2 separate regions of the Homo sapiens genome follow, and region 2 is linked to region 1. The links come from fine-mapping of genetic effects on plasma protein levels. A gene starts in region 1. The other region holds a variant in brackets. All regions are shown on one strand. Distances are from middle to middle. Region 1 holds the start of PTGR1 (prostaglandin reductase 1). Region 2 overlaps ECPAS (Ecm29 proteasome adaptor and scaffold).

Region 1 (5,379 bases):
TGGGGTAAAGCAAAGGAAAATCTTTTTCCTTGATCCTTTATTCCATATTCTAACTCTCTGTGTGCGAGTATGTAACAGCCGTGATTTAACTTAATCACCATGACTTGACAAGCTGCAGCCTTTGAGACTGACTGAGTCATCAAGTTTGGGAAACAGATTTTGTTTGACCTGGTGCGGCCCAATCTTATCTGTATCTTCAATTTAAGGACAAGTGAGTAAATATGTGAGCCACTCTGTGTTTCTGGCACTTTTTTCTCTTATTCTTACTTTGCAAAGACTTTTTATGCCTGCAATTTTATTAACACTTCTAATATCCAAAAGAAACAGTGATTCTGTAACAAGTTATCTTAAAAGAAAAAAAAAAGAGAGAAGCAGAATGCGATATGTAACCCAATACCGTTTCTATAAATTAAATGTATATGACCACAGTGCACATTATGTAAGAACATGGAAAAAAAAACTGTATGCAAATCAAATACATCACAGTAGTTACCTATAGTAGGAGGAGAAAAGCAGGAAATTGAGTTTTTTTGGTTTTCTTTTGAGACGGGATCTCACTTAGACACCCAGTCTAGAGTGCAGTGCCACGATCGCAGCTCGCTGCAGCCTCCACCTCCCAGGTTAAAGCTATGTTGCCCACGCAAGTCTTGAATGCTTGGCCTCAAGTGGTCCTTTTGTCTCAGACTCCAAAAGTGCTAGGATTACAGGCATGAGCCACAGCACCCAGCCTGGGAATGGAGTTTTGTTTTATATTAAGTTACATAAATTAATGAGAAGGGAGAGAGTGAGAAAGAAAGAATTTGGCAGACCAGTGGGGATAAAGTGCCACCAACTCTGATTAGTGTGAAGAATTCAACTCTCGGCATTGTGTTTTTAGGGTCCATCCAAGTTGCTTTATGTACATGGAACCCAGTGCTTCTGATGCTGTGTATATCCTGTGGCATGCGTCCACCACGCTTGGTCCACACACTCTGTTATGGGCTGAACTGTGTCTTCCCCAATTTCATGTGTTAAAATCCCCAAGTCCCAGTACTCAGAATGTAACTGTATTTGTAGATAGGGCCTTTAAAGAGGTAATTAAGGTTACATGAGGCCATATTAGTGAGCCCTAATCCATTTGACAGTATTTGAAGACAAGGCCTTCAAAGACGTGTTTAAGTTAAACGGAGGCTGACAAGTGGGGCTCTAATCCAATATGGCGGGTATCCTTACAAGGAGAGACATTGAGCCAGGTGTGGTGGTGGGCCTGTAATCCCAGCTTCTAGGGAGGCTGAAGGAGGATCACCTGAGTCCAGGAGTTCAAGGCTGCAATGAGCTATGATGCCCACCATTGCACTCCAGCCTGGGTGACAGAGCAAGACCTCAAAATAATTAAAATTAAATAAATAAATTAAAGACATTGAATCTTCACAATGACTGGAAGTTAGGCATTCTTCTTATCCCCATCTTGCAGATGGCTGAACTGAGTGAGGCAAGGAGAAGGTAAGTAAGTCTTTGAAAGCTACACCACTAGTAAGTGGCAGGTGCAGGCTTCGAACCTGCAGTCGTCTAATACCAACGACTTAGCTTCACGTTCAACCCCTGCCTGAGACCACCTCTCCTTGCAGAAGCCAGGTCAAGGCCTGATGTTTGCTAGGGTGTGATGGGTGGGGTGCCTCAGTGGCAAGAGTGCTCACTCCTGCCTGGGGGAGTCTGGCAAGGGTTCACAGAGGTGACCTTGAATTGGCTGGTGGAAGGCGAGTAGGTGTTCAGCAGGCGGACTGGGGACAGACAGGCAGGGTGTCTGCACCGCAGCCCTGGGCGAAAGCTTGCACTGCGGGCAAGCGGCAGGGCTGACGGGGAGCCCAGGGATCGGAGCCAGCACCGGGGGCTTATTAGGGCTGCGGCCGCCCCAGGCCCTGCCTTTGGACCCTTCCGGCCTGCTTGGCAGATGCCACGGTTGGTTCCCCCACGGGGCATATTTCCGCCGGGCTCCAACTTAGGACCCCAGGCGGAGGTCCAGTGTCAGCTGGACAAAGCTCTGTTAGGAATTTTCCTATCAGGAGTCCCTAACCCCCTACACGCACACACACGGGCGCGCGGGCGCGCACGCACACACACGCACACATGCACACATACGCGCGCGCACATGCACATAGGCACACAGAGATACGCGCACACACACACACAAACGCACTCAGATTTCCCGGACCCTGGTTTTCCTCCTGTGACCCTTTCGGGGCCGGGCTCTCACCCTAAAGAAGCAGCCCCGCCCTGGGGTGGCCCCACCCTCTCTTGGGACCTGTCATAAGTCGGACCCCGGGCGCCCGGCTGCGCAGTCCCAGCCGCCTTCCCCAGGCAGTGGAACCTTCGGGCTCCTGTAAGTAGACCTCCTGCTTTCTTTCCTTCCCTTTTCTCCCTCCTCTAACCCCCTTGCTTTCTTCCTGCCAAGTTTCTAGACGCCCCAGTGGAGGAGGTTTGCTCTTAGACCTCCTCCCCTTACGTCGAAATGACCGCTGGGTCTTGCACTCGGAGGATCTTGGGAGCCGACGTCCCGACGCCTCCCGCCCCCGCAGTTCCTTGGAGAGCTTGGAGCCGCGCGCCGGAGGGAATAGGAAAGCTTGGTTACAACCCGGGACACCCGGTAGCTTCCTGCACCCGGGAGGGGGCTGGCCAGGGAACTTGCTGGACTGCACAACTGGGGGAGGGTAGAAGAAGAAAGATCGGGGTGGGGATTCGGGAATGGGCAAGCGGGCGGCGGGCGGCGGGAGGCGAGGGTGGGAGCAAAGGGCGAGCGGGCAAAGGCCGGGCGCCGCGCCAGGCCCCCTCCTCGGGCGGGCGAGACTTTCCCGGGACCTGGCCCCTCTGCGGCCAGACCCTTTCCAGGAGGGCTTCTGGACTTGTAGCGAGTTTGGAAGCCCAGCGGTTGCTTTTTTGGGGAAAGGGACAAAGATGTGTGAACTCTAAAGAAGTTGAACTCATAGAAATAACGACTAGAATGATGGTTGCCAGAGGCTGGGAGCGGGTTCGGGGGGGAATGGGGGCTTGTTGGCCAAAGGGTACGAAGTTCAGAGACGAGAGGAGTAGGTTCTGAGATCTGTTGCACAGCAGAGTGACTAGAGCCAATAATGTGTATTTCGAAATAACAGAGTAAACTGCAAATGTCTCACCGTAAAAATGATACGTAGGGCCTGGCGCGGTGGCTCACGCCTGTAATCCCAGCACTATGGAAGGTCGAGGCGGGCGAATCATTTGAGCTCAGGAGTTCTAGACCAGTCTGGCCAACATGGGGAAACCCCGTCTCTACTAAAAGTACAAAAATTAGCTGGGCGTGGTGGCGGGCGCCTGTAATCCCAGCTACTCAGGAGGCTGAGACAGGAGAACCGCTTGAACCCGGGAGACGGAGGTTGCAGTGAGCTGAGATCGCGCCATTGCACTTCAGCCTGGGCGACAGAGCGAGACTCCGTCACAAAAAAAGTCTTAATTTTAAAAAAAGAAAAGAAGGAACAACCCCGGGCTGCAGATCAGACCGCCCCCCTGGCTCCCTCGCAATGCGGGAGTGCTCCCTCCAGGTCACCGTGTCCCCTCCCGCGGCACCGGTAGGGGAGCTGGGGAGATCACTGGCAGCTCCAAATGGTTTCGTAACTGGATTGTTTGTAGCGGATGCACCCGCGGGAAGGCGCAGGTCCCAAGTGATTCGGCAGAGTTCAGTCCAAGCAGAACATCCTGAACCCCCAGCTCGGGGCAGCCTTCATCATCTTCCCTTGCTTTGGTGCAGCGTTTCAGCTCAAAATCGGTTTGGTGTGGAGTTTAAACTCAAATCCCTACTGGGCCAAAGAAAATTCGCACCCGATGGCTGAGTGCAAGTGGTTCACACCTGTAATCCCAGCACTTTGGGAGACCGAGGCGGGCGGATCGCCTAGGCAACACAGTGAGGCTCCTCTCTACAAGAAAAGAGAGAAAAAAAAGTATTTAAAAAAAAAAAAAACGCACCTGAAAATGGGGCGGAGCAGCGGCGCCCTCCGGTGGTTTTCAGGAGTTCTGAGACTGCCTTGAAATGCGTGGCTGTTTCCATCTGAAAGAGGTGCATGGACTTCTATCTATTGGGTTCTTTGTGTTTGATGCTTTTTCTTAGAATTCACTCCATGTGAGATGAGAAACGGAATGGAATATTCGCACTTCCGGTAACTGTTCAGTGCCGTAGAGAAACTCTAGCCTAGCAGTGGCTGGGAAGAATTTCTTTGTTGTTTTATATTTTTTCCTTGTCTTGAAGATTTCTTTAAACCTCAGTTTCCTCATCCGTACACTGGCAATGATACTAATGTCTATCTTATAGGGAAGTTATAAGGATAAAATGAGGTAATCTATATGAAGTGCTTAGCACAGCACCAGAAACATAGTAAATGTTAAATGAATGTGGTTGGCATGATATGATAATGATGGGATTTGAGGATATTGTAATTGTGCTGTCTGGTCTCAGTTTGACGGCTAGAGAACTGTTAGAATGCAGTCACTTCATGGCAGTTGACTACATATTTACTGTGTTCTAGGAGCTTCAGGATGGTTCGTACTAAGACATGGACCCTGAAGAAGCACTTTGTTGGCTATCCTACTAATAGTGACTTTGAGTTGAAGACAGCTGAGCTCCCACCCTTAAAAAATGGAGGTAAGTCATACTAAAAATATTTCAGAGTTGGAAGGGACTGTATCAGTTAGCTTTTGCTGCATAACAAACTACCCCAAAGTTTAGTGACTTTAAGCAACAACGGTTTATTAGTTCACAATTCTTTGGGTTGGCAATTTGGGCTGAGTTAAGCTGGGTGGTTCTTCTTAGGTCTCATCTGGGGTAAATGGTTAATTTAGGATGGGCCTTGCTCACATGTCTGCTGATTAGCAGGCTTTCTGTTGGGGTGCATGCCTTAGTTCTCATCTATGTGGCCTTTCTAGCAGGCTAGCTTGAGCTCTATTCTTATAGTGGCCCCATAGATCTAGAGCAGCAGTAGTTGGCAAGCTCCAATGTGCAAGCACTTTCTCTTTTTTTTTTTTTTTTTTTTTTGAGACAGAGTCTTGCTCTGTTGCCCAGGTTGGAGTGCAGTGGCATGATTTTGGCTCACTGCAACCTCTGCCTTCTGGGTCCAAGCGATTCTCTTGCCTCAGCCTCCTGAGTAGCTGGGATTACAGGTGTGCGCCACCATGCCCCCCTAATTTTTGTATTTTTTCTGAGATGGAGTCTTGCTCTGTCACCCAGGCTGGATTGCAGTGGAGCAATCTCGGCTCACTGCAACCTTTGCCTCCCAGGTTCAAGCAATTCTCCCTGCCTCAGCCACCTGAGTAGCTGGGATTACAGGCGCCCACCAACACGCCCGGCTAATTTTTTTTTTTTTTTGTATTTTTAGTAGA
Region 2 (5,379 bases), 140 kb after region 1:
ATTGTCATAGCTTTATAAGTCTTGAAATCTGATTGAGCCACTCCTACTGCACTTTTATGGAAAATTGACAGTTACTCTTGGCTCTTTGCTGTTTCATACTCTGTTCCATTCATATTCCAAAGGAATTTTATAATTTTTTTCAGCTTTCACAAAGCACTCTGTTTTCTGTAGAGAATGTTTGACTGTTGGGGGCTTCCCATCTTTGCAATATTGAGTTTATTTGTGAGCATTAGTGCTGTTTACCAGATATTTCTAGTTCTCTCTTTTGGGCACAAAATAGAATTTAGTGCTGGGGACACAGTGAGAGACATGTGATTCACCACAGAAGTTTCACCACAGAAGGGTTGAATTGAGCCAGAAGGATTGAGGATATGGCACTAACTAGCGGTGTTTGAGATGGTGTTGGCTCTATCAGCCGACTGTAGTGAGCAGAGCCCTCCTCCTGATCTATGACTGAGGCATGGTCTAAGTGAGAAACTAATGTTGGTTGTTTTTAAGCCATGGAAATTTGGGGGTTATTATCACTAACCTATCCTGACATGGAAATCCATGAATGTAGTTGGGTGTGGTGGCTCACACTTGTAGTATCAGCACTTTGGGAGGTTGAGGTGGGTGGATCACCTGAGTGAGGTCAGGAGTTTGAGACCAGCCTGACCAACATGGCGAAACTGCATCTCTACAAAAAATACAAAATTAGCCAGGTGTGGTGGCGCATGCCTGTAATCCCAGCTATTTGGGAGGCTGAGGCAGGAGAATCGCTTGAACCTGGGAGGCAGAAGTTGCAGTGAGCCGAGATTGCACCACTGCACTCCAGCCTTGGTGACAGAGTGAAACTCTGTCTCAAAAAAAAAAAAAAAAAAAAAATTCCATGAATGTTGTGCTTCTCCATTAATTTAGATCTTATGAATTATAGTTAGGATTATAATTTTCTCTGTAAAGGACTATGACATGTTTCATTAGATTTATTTCCAGATAACTTGTAGTTTTATTGCCATTGTTAATTATATGTTTTTAAAAACTACATTGATACTTTGTTCTCATTTATCTCAGTTGACTTCTGTACTCTGATCTTGTATGCAACATAATTAACTTTCTTATTTTACATACCCTATCCCATAAATATCATGTAATCTGTGAATACTGACAGTTTTTAGTATCTCCTACTTCCATATTGCATTTTCTAGCAGTTCCAGTTCAATTTGCTTGGAAGTGATGATAGTGCACATCTTGTTTCTGATTTTGTATGAGATATATTTGCTGTAGATTTTACATAGATGCTTTTTGTCAGATTATGAAAGTTTCTTTCAGTGACGGTTATTTCCAGCTCCACAGTTATAAACTACTCTTTGGGACAGATTCTGCTAATCATATTTTTCAGACTCCCTTACCATCTAGCTTCTTGTTTTAAGATATCTTTTCCTATCTCGAGGTAATGAGAATATTCTTTATTTCTCTAGAAACTTTATTGTTTTACCTTTGACATTTAGATTTATGATCCATCTGGAATTGATTTTCTTTTTGTTTGATGATATGGTTTGGCTCTGTGTCCCCGTCCAAATCTCATCTTGTAGCTCCCATAATTCCCATGTGCTGTGGGAGGGATGCAGTGGGAGATGATTGAATCATGGGAGTGAGTCTTTCCCATGCTGTTCTCGTGATAGCGAGTGGGTCTTAGGAGATCTGATGGTTTCAGAAACGGGAGTTTGCCTGTACAAGCTGTCCCTTTGCCTGCTGCCATCCATGTTAAGATGTGACTTGCTCCTCCTTGCCTTCTGCCATGATTGAAAGGCTTCCCTATCCACATGGAACTGTAGTTCTCCATTAAACCTCTTTCCTTTGTGAATTCTCTAGTCTTGGATATGTCTTTATCAGCATCATGAAAACGGACTAATAGATATGGTGTGAGGTAGGGATTAAATATTGTTCTCCCATATTGGAATACAGTTGATTTAACACCATTTATTGAAAAGACCATCATTTACTCACTACATTGCAGTGACACCTCTGTTTAAACCAGGTGACTATATACCTGTTTGTCTTTTACACATTTTCTATTTTGTTCAAGTGGTCTACTTATTTTTTGTTAGCATAGTATACTTTTAATTACTGTAGTTTTTATTTTATGTGTTTATTTTTTTGAGACAAGGTCTTGCTCTTTTGCTCAGGCTGGAGTGCAGTGGCATGATCTTGGCTCACTGCAACCTCTACCTCCTGGGCTCAAGCAGTTCTCCCACCTAAGCCTCTCAAGTAGCAGGGACTACAGGTGCACGCCACCACGCCCAGCTAAATTTTTTTTTTTTTTTTTGGTAGAGATGGGGTTTCACCATGTTGCCCAGGCTGGTCTCAAACTCCTGAGCTCAAGCAATCAGCCTGCCTTGCCCTCCCACAGTGCTGGGATTACAGGGCTGAGCCACTGTGCCCAGCCTACTGTAGTTAGCCTTGAAATTTGACCA[A/G]AGTCTTCTAGCTGTTTTTCCTCTTCAAGATAGTTTTGGCAAATCTTGGTCCTTTGCATTTCTTTAAATTATAGAAAGAATCAACTTTTTTTTTTCTTCTAGTGGTATCCACACATTTAAAGATTATTCATCCACTCATTCATTGATTGAGATAGTTAGTATCTTCCTGTGTTGCCCAGGCTGGCCTGGAACCACTATAGGCTCGAGCCACTGTGCCTGGCTCTAGGATCAGCTTTTTAGTGTTACCCAAGTTATCTGATGGATTGTGCTTGGATTATATTGTCTATAGGTCAATTTGGGGAGAATTGACATCTTATTAATATTTTCTAATCTGTGAATATGGTGTATCTTTTAAGTTTTCCTTAATTTCTTGTAGCGGTGTATTTTAGTTTTCTGTGTAGAGGTCTTACACATTTTTCCCTAGATTAATTCCCAGCTATTCGATGTGTTTTGATGTCATTGTAATAGGTGTTTTCAAATTTTGTTTTCTAATGGTTTATTACTATTATATAGGAAACCAATTGATTTGTGTATTTTGTTATTCTATTAATTTTTCCATAGATTGTTTTGGATTTTTTGTGTACCAATCATTATCTTTAAATAATGAAAATATTATTTCTTCCTTTGTAATCTTAATGCATTTTATTTTTCTTTGTCTTATTGCTCTGAATAAAATTTGCAGTACAAATTTGAATAGAATTGGTAATAGTGAACATCTTTACCTTGTTCCTGAACTCAGAGGAAAAGTGTTTGGTATTTTACCTTTAGATATAATGTTTGCTGTAAGTTTTTATAAAAATCTCTTATCAGATTAAGGAAGTTCTCTTTTCTTCCTTGTCTCTTCAACATGAATAGTTTGTTCCCATCTATTTAGCATGAAGAGATGTTGAATTTGATCAAATGCCTTTTCTGTATATATTGAGATGATCATATGATTGTTATTCTCTATTGTGTTAATGTGGCAGATTACACTGATTTTCAATATTAAACCAACTTTGCATCTTTGGAATAAATCCAATTTTTGTATGATGTATTATCCTTTTTATGTATCGCTGGATTTGACTCATATTTTTTACTTATTTTATGTATTATGATTTAAATATTATTTTATTATCTCATTTGCGTCTATATTCATGAGAAATATCTTTTATTTGCTTTTATCTTTCTGGGGATACCCTTGTTTGGTATCAAGGTTATTCTGGCCTCTTAACATTCAGGGATGTGTTCCCCTGCCATCCCTTTACCCCACCTTTTTCTCTTCTCTGGAAGAAGTTATGAAGGAGAATTTACCAGCGAATTCATAAGGTCCTGCCATTTTTTTGTGTGGGGAGGTTTTTAAATAATACAGTTCATATTTGTGGTAATTTAGAATGAACCAGTTTTTTAAAGCAGAATTTATAATTGTGAGTTGTATCATTGTGGTCTGTCTTTAGAAGTAATTAAAAAAGCCCCTTAAAATCATGTAATTATGACTTTGTACTAAGTTATGCCTCCGTATGATGAGCTCTTGTGTCTCTGAGGTATTGTCACATGGGATTTTTAGCTTTCTGGCCTGGCTCAGTTTTCCTTTGGTGGTAGTAAATGGGGTTATTAACATACCTAGCATAGGATTCCTACTCTAGGTGGGATTCTACTAATAATTCATATTTTGCTCCCAGCTGATGGAATGTGTGTTCTCAAATATTTCGTAGACTTCTGATTTATTAAAATACTTATTTTTGTAGTAGTAGTCAGCTTTATTTAAAAAGGAGGTAAAATTAGCCAAATATGATGGCTCATACCTGTAATTCCAGCACTTTGGGAGTTTGAGGCAGGAGGATCGCTTGAGGCCAGGAGTTCACAAGCAGCCTGGGCAACATAGACCTCATTTCTACAAAAAATACAAAAAAGAAAAAGATAATAATTTCTTCTTGCCACTGAGCTTAAGGGGAAAAAAAAAGAAAAAGGTAAAATTAAAGGAATAATGTATTCTGAGAGATAATTATATACAATATTTATATAACATATGGAAAATATTTTATATCATATATAATTACTCTGCCAAACCTAACCAGTTAAGGGCATAGCCCTCCACTAGACTGAATCGACTTCATATGCCACCTACAAGTTCCTGTTATCCCAGAGCCACCCTCACTTTTGACCTATTGGATACAGATTTGGGGGTCTCCATGGACCCCCTCAGGTTTAATCATTAGCTAGAACGAGTCAGAACTCAGGAAAGCCGTGTATTTATGGTTATGGTTTTATAGAAAAGGATGCAAGTTAAAACCAGCCAAAGGGAGAGACATGTAGGGCAAGGCCTGAGAGGGTTCCAGATGCAAAGCTTGTGTTGTGTCAGGGTACTTTCCCAGTATAGCAATGTGTGATAATACACACAATGCACTGCTGATCATAGAAGCTCACCGGCTCACCTGAACTTTGGTGTCCAGGGTTTTATTGACCAGGTGTGATTGATTGATTGGATCATTGCCCATGTGACTCAATTTCTAACACCCCCCCCACCCTCCTCTCCCTCTCCAACCCTTCCCCTTGTCCACCTCCCCTAATCACCTGGCTGAAAACCTGCAAGATGATTAGTCTTTCTAGTGTGATCAACCCCCATCCTGAGTTATCTCTTAGCGTAAACAATCTGGGGCCCACTATGAGTTACTTCCTCAGTGTAAGTTATCAAATGTGATTAGAGGGTCCCACCATGAATAACAAAGGCACTTCAGTTACTGGGGAAATCCCAAGGGTTTAGTGCTTTCCTCTCAGGAACATGGACAGAGGTCACCTAAATTCTTTATTACACAAGAATATAAAAGCTACATCTGTAATATGATAGCCGTATATAACATTATATAATGTTTCACAACATTCTTATGAAGCAATCTTATGCTGTTCCTAATAGACAAGTTCATTAATAACCTTAGAGAGGTTTAGTTTA

Evidence for each region. A credible set is the group of variants that fine-mapping cannot tell apart. PIP is the chance, under the fine-mapping model, that this variant and not a neighbour inherited with it causes the effect. Protein levels are from the aptamer-based SomaScan assay of Sun 2018.
Region 2: its variant is the best candidate, but not a certain one, in a credible set for the plasma level of the PTGR1 protein (Sun 2018, PIP 0.76).

The regions. Positions count from the first base shown.
Region 1 is chr9:111,596,583-111,601,961 of GRCh38, reverse strand. PTGR1 (prostaglandin reductase 1) reads left to right here and starts at 2,315. Exons shown (of 10, transcript NM_001146108.2): 1 at 2,315-2,359; 2 at 4,530-4,645. The coding sequence starts at 4,540. RefSeq lists an enhancer at 1,892-2,464.
Region 2 is chr9:111,458,224-111,463,602 of GRCh38, reverse strand. All of the region lies in intron 2 of ECPAS (Ecm29 proteasome adaptor and scaffold), which reads left to right. Among named protein-coding and RNA genes, the nearest start is that of ECPAS, 23 kb to the left of the region's middle. The variant A/G (reference allele first, on the strand shown) is at 2,454.